Regions from separate parts of the Homo sapiens genome. Here region 2 is linked to region 1. Evidence: fine-mapped expression QTL. A gene starts in region 1. The other region holds a variant in brackets. All regions are shown on one strand. Distances are between the middles of the regions. Region 1 holds the start of CCDC9B (coiled-coil domain containing 9B). Region 2 holds the start of RPUSD2 (RNA pseudouridine synthase domain containing 2).

The links.
Region 2: its variant is fine-mapped to the expression of CCDC9B in liver (GTEx, PIP 0.93).

What each region holds. Positions count from the first base shown.
Region 1 is chr15:40,337,026-40,345,351 of GRCh38, forward strand. CCDC9B (coiled-coil domain containing 9B) reads right to left here and starts at 3,914. Exons shown (of 11, transcript NM_207380.3): 1 at 3,783-3,914; 2 at 2,880-2,990; 3 at 2,487-2,594; 4 at 1,723-1,878; 5 at 1,510-1,635; 6 at 699-868; 7 at 363-421. The coding sequence starts at 3,794. RefSeq lists enhancers at 1-97, 3,007-3,810, 6,755-7,254, 7,438-8,035, 8,036-8,326 and silencers at 7,605-7,714, 7,735-7,824.
Region 2 is chr15:40,567,845-40,576,170 of GRCh38, forward strand. It overlaps RPUSD2 (RNA pseudouridine synthase domain containing 2), which reads left to right and starts at 1,455. Exons shown (of 3, transcript NM_152260.3): 1 at 1,455-2,099; 2 at 3,760-4,056; 3 at 5,683-7,105. The coding sequence starts at 1,494. The coding sequence ends at 6,417. RefSeq lists enhancers at 1,397-1,726, 1,788-2,287, 2,037-2,086. The variant G/A (reference allele first, on the strand shown) is at 3,218.

The DNA.
Region 1 (8,326 bases):
CAGCTTCTTTATATATAAAACAAGGGGACCAGAACTCCACAGAGCTGTTTCTACAGTAGGTCTGGGGAAGGACCACCAGGACTTTCACCCTTTAGGGACCTCAAAGAGACCCCGGGCCGGCTTCCACTGAGCCTCCTTCTGGGGCCTTCTGCTCAGAACCTGGACAAGAGCTGTGGGCTCAGAGGGGAGGATGGGAGGTCTTGGTGCCCTCCTCTGATAGTGAGGGAGAGGAAGGAAGATGTTCTCCAACGCTTCCTTTCAGCTCTGAAAATAAGAGACTAAGAGACAGAGAAAAGAGAGGACAAGGGGGTGAAAGATGAACAAAGCCAAGGAGGGGAGGGATGAGGTAGGTGTGGGCTCACCCCTTCTGCTGCCTGCCCTGGCCGGGCCTTCTCCCCTCAGCTGGCTGCAGTCCTGTAGCCTGTGTAGACAGAGGGAGTCAGGTTGCTGGTGCACAGAAGCTGCCGCGGGCCCCACCCTGACACCCCCCTCCCCGAAGCCCAGGCCCAGAATTGAAGGCAGCAGGGAGATGGTGGGCCCAAGAAAGATGGGAGACCCAGAGCCTTGAACCCTGGGCTCGACCAGAATGCCCAGCAAGGTCCTCTCAACCCCGAGGAGGGTCCCTGCAGCCCTCCCAGCAGTGCCCGAAGCCAGCTCCATCCCGCACCACAGGCAACCTGCCCAACCCAGCCACCCACGTGGACTTGGCCTTGTCCAGGTCCCACGGGCGGCGCCAGTCACCCTGTGCGTCTCTGTGCCGGGCGAGGCGGGCTAGGTCGATCTGCTCCCGCTCCTGCTTCCACTGGGCATAGTCCCAGCCCGCCTCCGGGGGCTCCCCCACCGGCCGGCTCCAGGGCTCCCAAGAACCCTGTAGGGAGAAGACACTCAGAGTGAGGGGGAGAAGCAGGAAGAGGCTTGGGGTGGGGTTTGGAGACTCCAGGCGCTTCCTCTCTCAAGGTTTCCACATCTCCAGCTAAAAATTAGGCCTGTTCCAGCTCTCCCGTGGAAATGGTTTCCATCCACTTGTTAGCTGTGTGTTTTACATAAGTAATTTAACCTCTCTGTGTCTCATTTCCTCGTGTAAAATGGGGAGGATCTCCGTAGCACCAACCCACAGGGGTGTTGCAGGGGTATGCAGACGGGCCGGAGTGGGAGGGGCCCTGGAAGCTGTGAGCAAGGGCAAGGACTAGGGGCTGCTGCCACCTAGAGGTCACACCTGGCACTTGGCCAGTCAACTCCACCCTCCTGCCCCCTCCCCAACTCCCATGCCACCATCAGCAGGGCTAAATAGGGGAGGGGGCTGGATCACATCTTTGGCTTAAACTGTCTCCCACTTCAAGGCCCACCCAAAGTAGAGACTGGCCAGAGAAAGGGAGGAGGAGCAGGAACTCCTGCATGTGCTCCCTTGGCCACGTCCCCGCAAATGAGGGACATATCTGACTCAGCTTCTCTGCCTCCCCCAAGTGAGGACCTTCAGATCCATGTCCCCATCCCCTCTTGAAGACACACCTTCCGTGCAGAATCTGAGCTGATGGCCACCTGCGTGGGGGGGCTTCGGGTCACACGCCCTCCAGGTGACCCCTCTATGCCTTGGTTCCTTGCTCTGGTAGGCTTTTCACTTACAATCCGTTTGCCCTGGGGAGGATGAAGATGGGCAGTGCAGCAGAGCCAGGGAGGAAGAGGCTGCCTGCCGATGCCTGCACTCCCCACCACCCTGCTCACCTCTGCTTTGTTCTCCATGGTCACAGCCAGCTCCACCAGCTCCCCTAAGCAGAAAGTACCCCCGTGGTCCTCAGCATCCTCATCCTCAAGCATCTCGTTGGTCACTCTGGGTCCACAGGTACCCCTTGCCCAGTTCCTGCTAACCACCCGCTTTTCCTGCAGAACAAAGACCCTCAGGCCACATGGGCAGTGCTGGGCAGGACCTGGGTGCTGGGTCCTCTCGGTGGTTCCCCAGGCCTGGGTTCCAACCCCAGCCCTCCCTGCATTCCCCACAGAAGAGCTGACTCCCACAGGGTGTTCACATGCCAATGGCATGAGGTTATCCAGGGCCCAGGGCCACCCAGCGGCCCAAGATGCCACAGTGGCCCGTCATCTCTGAGCTGGGAAACCCAGAGCACTCAAACAATGGGTCTCTGTCCCTCAGACACTGCTCCTGGCATTCAGCCCCAACTTCTCTGTCCCCCACTTCCTGCAGGGTTTTAGCCCCTGGGGCTTGAGGTTTAGGAGTGGCCTGTGCTTTGTGGCATAGGCGCAGGGCTGTGGACTGGAAAAGGGTATGAAGATGCATCTACTGGGGGTAGGGGGGCTTTCAGCTGTGGCTCTTTGGTGGGGACAGCAGTGGTCCGACTGCAGGAGGTTGGGAGCTGGCAGGTGCACCCCAGAATAGTTAGTAGGAGAGGGGAACAGAGGCAGCTGTCTTTCCCCGACATGGTCTGGGCCTCCACCTCCTTGCTACGAGCCCTGTCTCCCAGGGTGAGGCTTACACCGGGAACCTGGCTGATGGTAACGGTGAGGCCATCAGGCTGGAGGAGTGCTGGTGTGGTCACAGCCATCCCCCCCTGCTCTGCCTGCCGACGGTCCTCCTGGATCTCCTGTGGGAGGGCTGGGGGTCAGCACACGCCATGGCCCCCCAGGTGCACAGAGACATAGATGCTGATAGGCCTACACAGAGAGACACCAGTGGGACACCAGGGGGCAGAGGCGCCACATCACACATCCCCAGGACCCTCACCAAGCCTCTAAGAGGGACCATGCCCACCCTACCCCTGGCCCCAGCCCCAGAGGCGCATTGCTGAGCCTGCAGGGAGACCACCACGTGTGGGGCACAGGGAGCGGCAGCCAAGTGGTTTCTCCTGGCCCTGTGGCAGCCCACTCACCTGGTACCTGCGGAGCAAGGCCTGGTTCTTCTTGCGCAGGGCAACTATCCTCCGATCCAGCTCTGCGTCCTTCTCCTGCCTGCTCATGGGGGACTCGGCTCTGGGAGTTCCCTGCAGAGGCAGGGAACCCAAGCTCCTGACTTCCGGGTCCCCCTCTCACCAGTCCCCAGCTTTCACATTTTCACCACCCAAGGAAGAGATCCCAGACCCACAGCTAAGGTCACCCAGGAAGGAAGGGGATTGCTTAGGGAGATGGCCCAAATAAGGCCCCAAGCCCCCATTCCAGCTAGGCCCGTCTGCCTGTCCCTGCCTCCTCAGGGGGCTCAGGTCAGGGCCTCATACCCCAAGCCACAGCTCCCAGCAGTGGGGTGCCCCTCCCCCAGCTCTCCAGGGAGCTTCACTGCCGAGCAGAGCCTGGAATGGGAGTTATAAATGGCTCTGGCAGCGGAACCTGCCGTGACTGGGAAGCTGCCAGGGGATTCGGGAGGTCGAGGGGGGAGCTGTTTGGCTCCCAGATCCACAACCAGAGAAAAAGGAGAGGCCCTGGCTCCGTCCTGGGCTCTCAGGCCCTGGACCCCGCACCTAGGCCTGTGCCCAGCCTGGAGGAAAGAGCCGCTCCCAGGGGCCCAGCCTCTCCAGGCCGAAAGCTGCTGGTAGTCGGGGCGGAGAGAGCCAGCTCCCCTGGCGGCCCCAGCCCAGGAGTCACCCTGGGCAAGCCATGTCTCTGCATCAAGATTCCAGGTTCCTCTCTGTCTGGATGCAGGTTCTCTGTTGTGACCCTAGTCACAGCCTTCTTCCTCCCAGCCCCAGCTGTCCCCAGCTGCCCCCAGAGGGTGGCTGCCTGGTATCCCAGCCCCCTCCCAGTCCCAAGAAGCCCCCTGCCAAAGGCAGACTGCCACTCACAGCCGAGTGCATGGCAACGGCGGGCACCGAGAGAATTCCAGAGCAGCCCCTGGGGAGCCAGAGTGGGAGGAAAGCTGGAGCCACCGGAGCCGGGCCTCTGCCGGCCTCTCCCTGCCGGCTTCGCTGCTCAGCACACGAGATCATGTTGTGATTACAAAAGACTCCTCTGGGCTCCCAGCCAGGAACGTCGGGCCGCCACCCCCACCCTTCCACTCTCAGAGGGCGAGGACCAGGGCACTGGCAGCTGGCTGGTCCTGCCTAGCACCTCTCCCTGCCCCACCCCAGCGTCCCCAGACAGACTGGTAGGGACTTCTCCCTGGTGGGTCAAGCCTACACAGGAGGCCTGGCTGCCTAGGCCCCAGCAGGACCCCAGCCTGGGCCTGCCTGCAGACAAGATGGGCAGCCAGCGTAGGCCTCTGTGCCTCCCATGAGTAGAAAAAGGCCTACAGCACACAGATGCGCCTGCCCTCTCCTGCTCCTTCTCCTCATCAGCCTTGGTTTAAGTAATTCAAAGGGATCAAGAAGCTCACCTCCCCTAGACTACCAAGTACTACCACATCCCTAAAATGACAACAATAGTCATTCATTCTTTTAGGTTGGACATTGTCTTCTCTGTGCAGTCATGCACCATATAATGACGTTTCACTCAACAATGGACCACATATATGATGGTGGTCCCATAAGATTATAATGGAGCTACAAATTCCTATGGCTTAGTGACATTGTAGCCATTATAACATGGTAGCACAGGGCACTACTTATGTGCTTATGGTGACGCTTGTGTAAACAGACCTACGGCATGACAGCCGCACAAAAGTATGGCACATACAAGTGTGCACAGTACAGAATACCTGATAATGATAATTAACAATTATGTTACTGGCTTATGTATTTACTATACTATACTTTTTATCATTATTTTAGAGTGTATTTCTTCTACTTACAACAACAACAAAAAAAAGTGAACTGTAAAACAGCCTCGGGCAGGTCCTTCAGGAGGAAATCCAGAAGGCATTGTTAGCATAGGAGATGACAGCTGCAGGCCTGTTAATGCCCCTGAAGACCTTCCAGTGGGTCAATATGTGGAATGGAAGACAGTGATGTTGATGATTCTGACTCTGTGTAGGCCTAGGCTAATGTGTGTGTGTTAGATTTTGAGAAAAAAGTTTAAAAAGTTAAAAAAAAGAAAAAGTTTCAAAATAGCAAAAAAACTTATAGAATAAGGATATAAAGAGAAAATATTTTTGTACAGCTGTACAATGTGTTTTGTTTGTGTTTTAAGCTAAGGGTTATTACCAAGAGAGTCAAAAAGTTTTTTTAAATTAAAAAGTTTATAAAGTAAAAAGGTTACAGTAAGCTAAGGTTAATTTATTACTGAAGAAACAAAAATATATATTTTTTAATTTTTCATTTTTTGAGACAGTCTCACTCTGTCACCCAAGCCAGAGGTCAGTGACATGATCATGGCTCACTGCAGCCTCAACCTCCTGGGCTCAAGGGATCCCCCTGCCTCAGCCTCCTGAGTAGCTTGGACAACAGGCGCATGCCACCATGTCCAGGTAGTTTTAAAATTTTTTGTAGAGAGAACGTCTTGCTATGTTGCACAGGCTGGTCTTGAACACCTAGGCTCAAGTGATCCTCCTGCCTTGGCCTCCCAAAGTACTAGGATGACAGGCATGAGCCACCATGCCTGACCAAAAAATCATTCGTATAAATTTAGTCTAACGTAAGTGTACAGTGTTTATAAAATCTATAGTAGCAGACGGTAATGTCCTAGGCCTTCAGATTCACTCATCACTCACTCAGTGACTCACCAGAGCAACCTCCAGTCCTGCAGGCTTCATTCATGGTAAGTGCCCTATACAGGTGTGCCATTTTAAATCTTGTACACCATATTTTTACTATATCTTTTCTAAGTTTAGATATGTAAACACTTAGCACTGTGTTACAGCTGCCTACAGTATGCAGTACAGTAACCTGCTGTACAGGTTTGTAGCCTAGGAGCAATAGCTATACCATATAGCCTGGGTGTGTAGTAGGCTGTACCATCTAGGTTTGTGTAAGTGCTCTCTGTGGTGTTCACACAATGACAAAACCACCTAACAACGTATTTCTCAGAACATAGCCCTGTCATTAGCAGACACATGACTATGTTTTAAAGCACAGCCGCTTCCAAGAGGCTCTGTTGTTTGGGTCTCTAGCCCTTTGGTATGGTGAGCCAGGCATTCCTCCAGGGCCCTTGCCATGGCAGTTCAGAGCTGGTCAACAGCCTTCCTCCCTCGGGCCCTAAGTTTGGGCCCTTCCTGGCCTTGCTCTCCAAGACTGGCTTTTTCAGCCTCTCTGAACCTGGCAAAGGAATCAGCCCTTCTCAGGAAAGCTCCTCCCCCATATCTTCCTCATACAGCTGAGACTGGTCTCCCTGCCCAGGCTCCTAGAGCCTCTGGGACTCAAGGCTTGGGGGTGCTGAGAGGAGGGTGGTCTTTCTGGACTAGGAATTCGTGGAGTCTGTTTCCTCAGCTACAAGGCCCTGAGCTCCAGGCCCTCAGGTGAGAATCAGAAGCCCCTGCATTCCCCACATCCCTGATTGACCAGGCCAGTTTCCCAAATGCCACAACTCGTCCCCTCTGTCTCCAGAGCAGAAACCCCCGCTGCCTTCTTTCTCCTCCCAGACCCACCCAGGCAGCCAGAGGTCCAACCTCCACCCCTCCAGAACTGCCCTTTCCTCCCCACTCCCTCCCCCAGCTCCGCCAGGCTTAGCCCTCTTCCTGTCCAGGCCTTTGCACAGCACCCCTGGCCCCACACCCCATCTCCACCACCCCAGAGTTCCCATCTTGCTTGCAAATGCCACTGCGCTCTCCCTTCCTTTCCTGCCGGATGTCCCCACTGAGTCAGACTCGTCAAACTCTCCCAGCAACCATGACGCACCCAGGCTTTGTGCCCTGGGCCTCTCTCACACACATACACGCACACACTCTCTCTCCTTCTCCCAGACGCTCTGCATCCTGCCCCATACAGTGGACTGAGTTCCACGCCAGCCTCAGGAGGCTTCAGAAGCCTCCAGAAGCCTCAAACTTCCCTTCGCCTGCCCCGCACTGTGTTGGAGCTGGGAGGCCCGCAGAGCACTTGCTGGGGAGGGAGACCTAATGCTCTCCAGCCTCTTCAGAACTCAGGCCCGGACCAGGTCTGGGGAGGAGATGTGTAGATGGGGTAAGGAAGCTACAGGGATAAGGCAAGGCTGTGTACCCCCTCCCCCATTCCCAGACAAGGTGGGGGCAAGAGAGTAGCAGGGGGGTAAAGGCATGGGCACAGGCTTATCGCCTGTGGGATGGCCACACAGCTCTTCTGGAAGGGCCTGCAGGAACACACTCCCCTCACCTAGGGCAAAGGCCTTCTGGTCTGTCAGGCTAGAGGGGTATGTGCCCAAGACAAACCAACCATCATACGGGGGGTACCAGCAGCTGCTGACTGTGTGTTTCCCAGTGTTATTCACACATGACGTCACACCTCTGAGCAGCCCCCACAGTCTCCCACTTTCCCCAGAGTCTGTGGTTGGCCTGTCTGCTCTCCATTGGACAGAGGCTCTCTGAGGGCAGGAATGACCTGCCAAGTGCCTCTGGATCCCCAGTGTCTGGCACGGTGCCCCTGCATACTAAAGAACCTCCATCAGCACTTCCAGAATGAAGACATGCGTGAATTGTGCTTGCCATCCTGTGCATAGCTGTGGGTATCCTATGCATAGGCTGGGACTGCCTTTCTGTCCACCTAGAATGTACGCAGCCCTGAGGGAGCCGGTGGGTGGTAAAGGTGCCCTAAGAGTAGCCCCACCCCACCCCGGGGAGAAGCCCACAGGAAGCAGGGGAGATGGAGAAGGACCAGCTTGCCATCCCCATGAGACTGGGTGTCTGTTTCTCTGTGTCGCCACTAAGGGGCAGCAGAGCGACAACAGCCTGTTTTTGGGTGCGGGAGGCGGTTCCCTTTCTCTGTTGTTCCACAGGGCCTCCCCCAAGTCCCTGTAACCTCCACCTCCCAACTCCATCAGACTAGAGAAGCCATCTAGTTGTAGAAGACTTATTTTATTGATGAGGAAGCTGAAGCCCAAAGAGGTGGCGCCCTCTGCCCAGGTGGCACAGCCTGTCTGTGATGCCGCTGAGGCCACACACCCGGGAGCTGCCTCCTGCCCAGGGCGCCTTCACCGGCTGCCCCGCCAATGCCGTTCTGCTGATCCTTCCCTCTGTGCCCTCCCTCTCTCCACCCGGGGTTGGGCCGGGTGTCCCAGCACCTCGGGCACAGGCTCTTCCCTGTGGTCCCCCACCCTCCCAGGCCACCCGCTGGCTCAGGGGGTACCCCCTGAGGTCCAGAAGGGAACGTATCTGGACCCTATTCGTGGTCCTCAGAGCACAGACCTGGGACCAGCCCTGAGAACGAGATGGCTGCAAGTTGGGATTCTCACTGAGGAGAAAGAGGGAAGGGGCTGCAGGGGAGGAAAGACCCTCCGAACCACACGTGGAGCCACCGCAACCCTGGGATCACAGCCCTGGCAGAGG
Region 2 (8,326 bases), 230 kb after region 1:
AGCATATGGAGTTCTGCAGCTGTGGATACCTCAGCTGCAGTCCCTCAGTTAGTTTGGTGAGACTAATGACTTGAAGAAGGAATTTAGCTAAAAAAGATTTCCCTTTCTCCTCTCCAGAATACAAATGCCTAGGATAAGAATTAGACTGTCTTTTTTTTTTTTTTTTTTTTGGCAAACTAACATTGAAATGCCTCCTTATTTGGAAGAATCCCACTCTGGATACCAAAGAGGGTTAGATTCTTGGCCGGGCGCGGTGGCTTACGCCTGTAATCCCAGCACTCATAATATAAAAATTAGCCAGGCGTGGTGGTGCGTGCCTGTAGTCCCAGCCACTCAGGAGGCTGAGGCAGAAGAATGGCTTGAACTCAGGAGGCGGAGGTTGCAGTGAGGTGAAATCGCTCCACTGCACTCCAGCCTGGGCGACAGAGCAAGACTCCGTCTCAAAAAAAAAAAAAAAAAAAAAAAAAAAGAGGGTTAAATTCTTCCATCTCCAGGCACCCTGGAAGTGAGGGCTCAGAGCAATGAGGTTTGGCTGATGGAAGTCCTCCCCTGCAGGACTCTTAACCTTGGAAGAGGGACACAGAGACACAGGGAGATTTAGGGGTCTCCAAGGGGTGGCAGGGCTGCAGGAAAAAGAGTCCTTTGGCACAACATAGTTTCTTGTGTCTACTGCATCCCAACTGGGTTTCTTCCCTGACATGTCTGAAGCCAGGCTCTCAAAAGGCTTGGTTTCCCTTGATTTGGCCCTTTTTCTGAGCCTAGTCTCCAGTTGTCTTGTGAATTCTATGAGGCACTAATATACTTTCCATAATTCTATCTCTGATGAAATTAGCCAGAGTTGGTTTATTTTGCACTTAAGAACCCTCGCCATATATCCTCTGATCTATTTGCAGTTTTAATCTCAGGATGGAAGCATGTGGGAGGCGAATGGGGATCACTAATCCTTCTCATGCTGTTAGGGGGAAACACAGGTGTGAACACATTGCTTCTGGGGTGCTTGTGTGTGTTTTAAATACATATATAACAATCTTACTGAGATACAAGTCACATACTATAATATTGACCCTTTTAAAATATAGAATACAGTGGGTTTTAGTATATTCGCAGAGTTTAGCAATCTTTATTCTGGTTGTTAGTTTTTGTTTTGTCTTAAATAAAGCTCCTTTCAAGCGTTTCTTCAGACCCAAGGGACTACTCGGAATTTACACGACCTACTCCTGTCATGGCCTTTACACGGAGCAATTCCAAGGGTTTCCTTTATAAATAACGTCGTATCTCCCTAATAGGAAGACGTCTGAGTAAGGTCACTTTTGGTGAGACATTTACAGTCTCTCATCTCTAAGCTCACTCAATTCACCTAATTTAATTCGAGCAGCTCACTCATTCGCTCACTTATCGCAGACCCCGCCTCGGGACTGGGCCTCCCTGATTCGCTGGGGCCGAGTGACGTCCTCAGATCGCGACCCTGGGAGTGGAGTGGGGGCAGCGTGGTTATGTGGCTGGACCGCCGCGGATGGCTCAGGGTTCTTGGACATTGGCGCTACGACCTTAGGCGCCCTAGCTTTACCAGGACTTGGAGTGGCGATAAGGGCCCAATGGCAGAAACAGTGTCTACCCAGGTTGGGACAGAGGGCGGGCTGAGGGCTTCGCATCAGCAAAACGGTGACGCTGGTGGCGACGCGAAGGTTGAGCTGTCCCCCGGGCCCCCGAAGCCGGCTGGCCGGGAAGTGGAGCCGGCCCCAGTAGGCGGGGAGCATCCCTCGGCTGCAGCCCCAGGCCCGGGCAAGCATAAGAAGCGGCGGGGCGCAACCAGGGAGCGTGTCGTGCCGCCCCCGAAGAAGCGGCGGACCGGGGTGAGCTTCGGAGATGAGCACTTTGCAGAAACCAGTTATTACTTCGAGGGCGGCCTGCGTAAGGTGCGGCCCTATTACTTTGACTTCCGGACCTACTGCAAAGGTCGCTGGGTGGGCCACAGCTTGCTGCACGTCTTCAGTACCGAGTTCCGAGCTCAGCCCCTGGCCTACTATGAGGCCGCGGTCCGGGCGGGCCGCCTGCAACTCAACGAGAAGCCGGTGCAGGACCTCAACATCGTGCTCAAGGTGGAGTCCTGATGGGGCTGGCCAGAAGCGGGCGAGGAAAAGGGGCCGGGTTTTGTTTTGTTTTGTTTTGTTTTTTAGTCTTAGTAAAGCATAGGTACTGGATTAAAATCATGGCAATTCTAAAGCGTTCTCGCTTTCATTTGGAACACTATTTTAGCCCGTTTCCCACCTCCGCAAGTGGCCAGGGTGTCTGTGCTTCAGGACTCAGCCTGTTTATCCTCTTCCTCAAGGCAGCTTCCTTGTTTCCAAGGGACAGAAGTTGGAATTTTCATAATTCCTTTAAACACCGTCTTGTGGCAAGGGCACTGATCACTTTACCCTGCGTTGTAGATCTCTGTGCAAATAGTAATAATAGGGGCTATCATTTATGTCTCTTTACTGTGTGCTGGGCACAAAGTTAAACATTGTATGTCCACTAATTCTAATGACAGCCTTGTGAAGTAGGTATTGCCACTCCATTTTACCTCTGAGGAAACTAAGGAAACTCACAGGGGTAAGGCTATCAACAGTGCCACTACCAAAGCCTATGTTCCTATAACTACTACTTAAACTATTTAACATAGAGTTATGAGATGTCAGGGATAGAGACTAGAATTGTTTAGCCCAGTGCTTTGACTCCTTTAAAATTCCATCACATCTATGAGGTACCAGACACCCCTGTCAGAAGTAACACTGTTTACCTCTCAGTAACACTAGTTTACCATGGTTGTGAGTGGAGAAAAGGCGATTACAGCATTTGGGGAATGGATGGTTTTGGAGTAACTTGTTCCATTGATCAATCGATTTGCGTCAATATATCATACATTGACGAATTCCCTCTCCTATCCCAATTTCTAAAGCACAGATCTGGTCTAACCCTCACATTCCACAGGAAGCAGAGACCCAGAAAAGATAAATGACTTGCCCAAGAGCATGTAGCGAGCCTGTGGCAAATCCTGGTCTAGAGCCCATATCCCTGGACTTAAGCCTTAGTTTTGTTTGTTCAAGATCGTAATAAGTGATGATTTATGGAGGTTTTTTCCTCCATTAAAAAAATTTTACCTTGATTATTTATTTTTTTTTTTTTTGAGACAGAGTCTTGCTCTGTTGCCCAGGCTGGCGTGTAGTGGCGCGATCTC[G/A]GCTCACTGCAACCTCCGCCTCCCAGGTTCAAGCGATTCTCCTGCCTCAGTCTCCCAAGTAGCTGGGATTACAGGCATGTGCCACCACGCCTGCTAATTTTTGTATTTTTAGTAGAGACAGAGTTTGACCATGTTAGCCAGGATGGTCTTGATCTCGTGATCCACCCACCTCAGCCTCCCAAAGTGCTGGGATTAGAGGCGTGAGCCACTGCGCCCGGCTAAAAAATTTTACCTTTTAAATACCTTTATTGTAGAGAAAATACAATTAGCAAAGCCAAAAAACATTCATAATCTAACCACCCAGAGATAACACAGTTAACATTTTTGCATATGTCCTTCCAGTACTTTTTCAGTGCCAGCTATCTGCCTGTGTCTGTCTGTATTTTTACAAAATGAGATCACACTCTGCACACTGCTTTTTCAGCCCAAGATGTGCTTTCACCATTTTTCCATGTCAGTGAGGAACAGGGGAAGCTGGATATGAAGTTGACTGATTACAGGCTGCGGTCCCTAGGCTGACTTATTACCTATGTCTTTGACAGGACAATGATTTCTTGCGGAACACAGTGCACAGGCATGAGCCACCAGTCACAGCAGAGCCCATTCGCCTGCTAGCTGAGAACGAAGATGTGGTGGTTGTAGACAAGCCTTCCTCCATTCCCGTTCACCCCTGTGGCCGCTTCCGACACAACACAGTTATCTTCATCCTAGGCAAGGAGCACCAACTCAAGGAGCTACACCCCTTGCATCGGCTTGACCGCCTTACCTCAGGGGTGCTTATGTTTGCCAAGACAGCTGCAGTCTCTGAGAGAATTCACGAGCAGGTTCGGGACCGGCAGGTGAGTCAGGCTTTTGTCTCCTACAGGCCACTTCTTGGGCTCACGAATGCTCTGTGTCAAAAGGGCATCATGGAGTTCCGAAGTGGTCCTTCATATTTATCTGGCCATCCTTCCTACCTTCCTACCTTAAGGCAGGTCAACACCTAAAGTGCCAAATGCAGGATATCTCATATGTTTCCAAAAAAATCTTTAGAGATGGCATACACTGCCTCTCTTAGTAGTTTGCTATTTTGAAGCTTTAAAATGCTGACAAGGCCAGGCTCACACCTGTAATCCCAGCATTTTGGGAGGCTGAGGTGGGAGGATAGCTTGAGCCCAGGAGGTAGAGACCAGCCTGGGCAAAATAGGGAGACCCTATCTCTACAAAAAAAAAAAAAAAAGGCCAGGCGCAGTGGCTCACGCCTGTAATCCCAACACTTTGGGAGGCCGAGGCGGGCAGATCACGAGGTCAGGAGATCGAGGTCATCCTGGCTAACACGGTGAAACCCCGTCTCTACTAAAAAAAAATACAAAAAATTAGCTGGGCGTGGTGGCGGGCACCTATAGTCCCAGCTACTCGGGAGGCTGAGGCAGGAGAATGGTGTGAACCCAAGAGGTGGAGCTTGCAGTGAGCCGAATCGCGCCACCGCACTCCAGCCTGGGTGACAGAGTGAGACTCTGTCTCAAAAAAAAAAAAAAAAACTTACCCTGGCATGGTGGCACATGCCTGTAGTCCCAGCTACTTGGGAGGCTGAGATAGGAGGATCACTTGGCCATGGGAGGTTGAGGCTGCAGTGAGCCATGAGCATGTCACTGCGTTCCAGCCTGAGCTATAGAACAAGACTCCGTCTCAAAGAAATAAATTAACATAAGAAAATAAAGTGCTGACAGGCTGAGCAAGGCTTTTAAGATTATGGGGAGAGCCTGCTTGGTGAAAAGATTCTAGATGTAGTTGGAAAAGTCTTGGGTAGAGGAGTTTAATGGTAATGATTGTTGTCCTGAGACTTGTAATTCTGGATCTGAATCATAATACATTTATTGAGTGCATGCTATATACCAGGCTTAGTATCAAGCACATTAGAGCCTAACTTACTGAATGCTTATCACAGCCCAATGAGGTAAATGCTTTTCTTTTCTTTTCTTTTTTTTTTTTTTTTTTTTTGAGATGGAGTTTCGCTCTTGTTGCCCAGTCTGGAGTGCAATGGTGTGATCCTGGCTCACTGCAACCTCCGCCTCCTGGGTTCAAGCAATTATCCTGCCTCAGCCTCCCAGGTAGCTGGGATGACTGGCATGCGCCACCACGCCTGGCTAATTTTGTATTTTTTAGTAGAGACGGGGTTTCTTCATGTTGGTCAGGCTGGTCTCGAACTTTCGACCTCAGGTGATCCACCCACCTCAGCTTCCCAAAGTGCTGGGATTACAGGCGTGAGCCACCTCACCCAGCTGGTAAATGCTTTTCTAATTTCACATTTTCTAGATGAGTTAGTAGGATTTAGAGGTTAAGTAATGTACCCAAGATCGCAAAACTGGCGAATGGTAGAGCTGGAGTTTGAATTTTCTGACACTGGTCCTTATCACTCCACAAAGAGTTTGGACTCCATGAATTTAGGCTTTGTACTGACTTTCTCCCTCTTCCCTCCTATGTAGCTGGAGAAGGAGTACGTGTGCCGGGTGGAAGGGGAGTTCCCCACTGAGGAAGTGACCTGTAAAGAACCCATCTTAGTGGTGTCTTACAAAGTAGGGGTGTGCCGTGTAGATCCCCGGGGCAAGCCCTGTGAGACAGTGTTCCAGAGGCTAAGCTACAATGGCCAGTCCAGTGTGGTACGGTGCCGGCCACTCACAGGCCGCACACACCAGATTCGAGTCCACCTTCAGTTCTTGGGCCATCCCATTCTCAACGACCCCATCTACAACTCAGTTGCCTGGGGTCCTTCTCGAGGCCGGGGCGGCTACATTCCCAAGACAAACGAGGAGTTGCTACGGGACCTGGTAGCAGAGCACCAGGCCAAACAGAGCCTGGATGTGCTAGATCTCTGTGAGGGTGACCTGTCCCCAGGACTCACAGACTCTACGGCCCCCTCCTCAGAGTTGGGCAAGGACGACCTGGAAGAGTTGGCTGCAGCTGCCCAGAAGATGGAGGAAGTAGCTGAGGCAGCCCCTCAGGAGTTGGACACAATAGCCTTGGCATCAGAGAAGGCAGTTGAAACAGATGTCATGAATCAAGAGACAGACCCACTCTGTGCAGAGTGCCGGCTGGTGCGACAGGATCCCTTGCCCCAAGACCTTGTGATGTTCCTACATGCCCTACGCTATAAAGGGCCAGGCTTTGAGTACTTTTCACCAATGCCTGCCTGGGCACAGGATGACTGGCAAAAGGACTGAGGGTGTGGCCAATGGAGGGATTGCTTCTTGGGTTGTGACAAGGATGGGCTATAGGGCAAGGGCTGACCCCATGGGCTAGTACTTGGGGTTTCTATAGGAATGAGGACGGGCTTCTAAAGAGACCTGCTCATACTTGCTACCTCCTTCCAGTGGGAATTTGGAGACTTTTTGGTTTGTAAATATATCCCTTTTTCTAACATCTTTGATGTCTGGTTTTCTTCCGGCTTCTTTTTTATTACTGATGTAAAATTCACATAACATAAAATTAACCACTTTAACTAGCCAGGCACAGTGGCTCATGGCTATAATCCTAGTACTTTGGGAGGTAGAAGTGAAAGGATCACTGGAGGCCAAGAGTTCAAGGTTAAAGTGAACTGTGATTGTGCTGCTGCACTCCAGAGCCTAGGTGACAGAGTGAGACCCTGTCTCTTAAAAAAAAAAAAAATTAACCAATTTAAGATGTACAGCGTAGTCACATTTAGTACATTCACAGTGTTGTACAACCATAACCTCATATATTTCCAAAACATTTTCATCACCCCAAAAGGAAACCTGTACCCATTAAGTAAGTGGTCACTTTCCACTCCCCTTCCACCAGCCTCTGGCAACCACTAATCTACTTTCTGTCTGTTTGGATTTGCCTGTTTATTCTGGACATTTTATATAAATGGAATGATAAAACATGTGACCTATGTCTCTGTTTCCCTTGGCATAATGTTTTCAAGGTTTATTCAACTTGTAGCATGTATCGGTACTTCATTCTTTTTTTATGGCAGAATAAGCTGTTGTATGGATATACCACGATTTGTCTATCTGTTCATCAGTTAATGGACATTTGGGTTGTTTCCACCATTTCATTATTGTGGATAGTGCTGCTGTGAACATTAAATATGTTTTCAGTTCTTTTGGGTATATACCTCACAGTGGAATTGCTGGGTCATATGGTAATTCTATGTTTAAATGTTTGAGAATCCACCAAACTTTTCCACAGCAGCTGAACCATTTTATATTGCCACCAGCAAGCATAGGGTTTCAATTTCTCTACATCTTCACCAACATTTGTTTTGTTTTGATTATAGTCATCCTAGTAGGAGTGAAGTGGCATCTCATTCTGGGTTGTTAGTCTTTTTGTTGTGGAGTGTAAGTGTTCTTTATATATTCTGGATGTGAGAGTCTTAGCAAAAAGACTAACAGCCCAACTTAAAAATGGGCAAAGGATTGGAATAGACATTTTTCCAAAGAAGATATACAAATGACCAGCTAACATATGAAAAAAAAAAAAGCTGAACATTATTAGTTATCAGGGAATGCAAATCAAAACTGTGGCATTAGTATAAGAATAGACATAGAGTGATGGAATAAAATCAAGAGTCAAGAAATAAACCCATCCATCTAAGGTCAATTGGTTTTTGACAAAAGTGCTAAGACTGTTCAGTGGGGAGAGAATAGTCTTAAACAAATGTGTTTTTTCTTAAACAGTTCGTGCTGGGAAAACTGGGTATTCACATAAAAAAGAAAAAAGTTAGACCCCTACCTCATACACAAAAATTAACTGAAAATAGGCCAAGGACAATGGCTTACACCTACAATCCCAACACTTTGGGAGGCCGAGGCAGGAGGATCCCTTGAGGCCAGAAGTTTGAGAACACCCTGGGCAACATAGCAAGACCTTATCTCTACAATAAATAAATAAATCAGCTGCGTGCGATGATGTACGCCTGTAGCCCTAGGTACTCGGAAGGCTGAGGCAAAAGGATTAGTTGAGCCCAGGAAAAGTCTTAGAAGAAAATATTGGGGTAAATCTTCAAGACCTTAAATTTGGCAATGGGTTCTTAGATACAACACCAAAATAATAATCAATGAAATACAAAATAAATAAATTGCACTTTATCAAAATAAGGACTTTTGC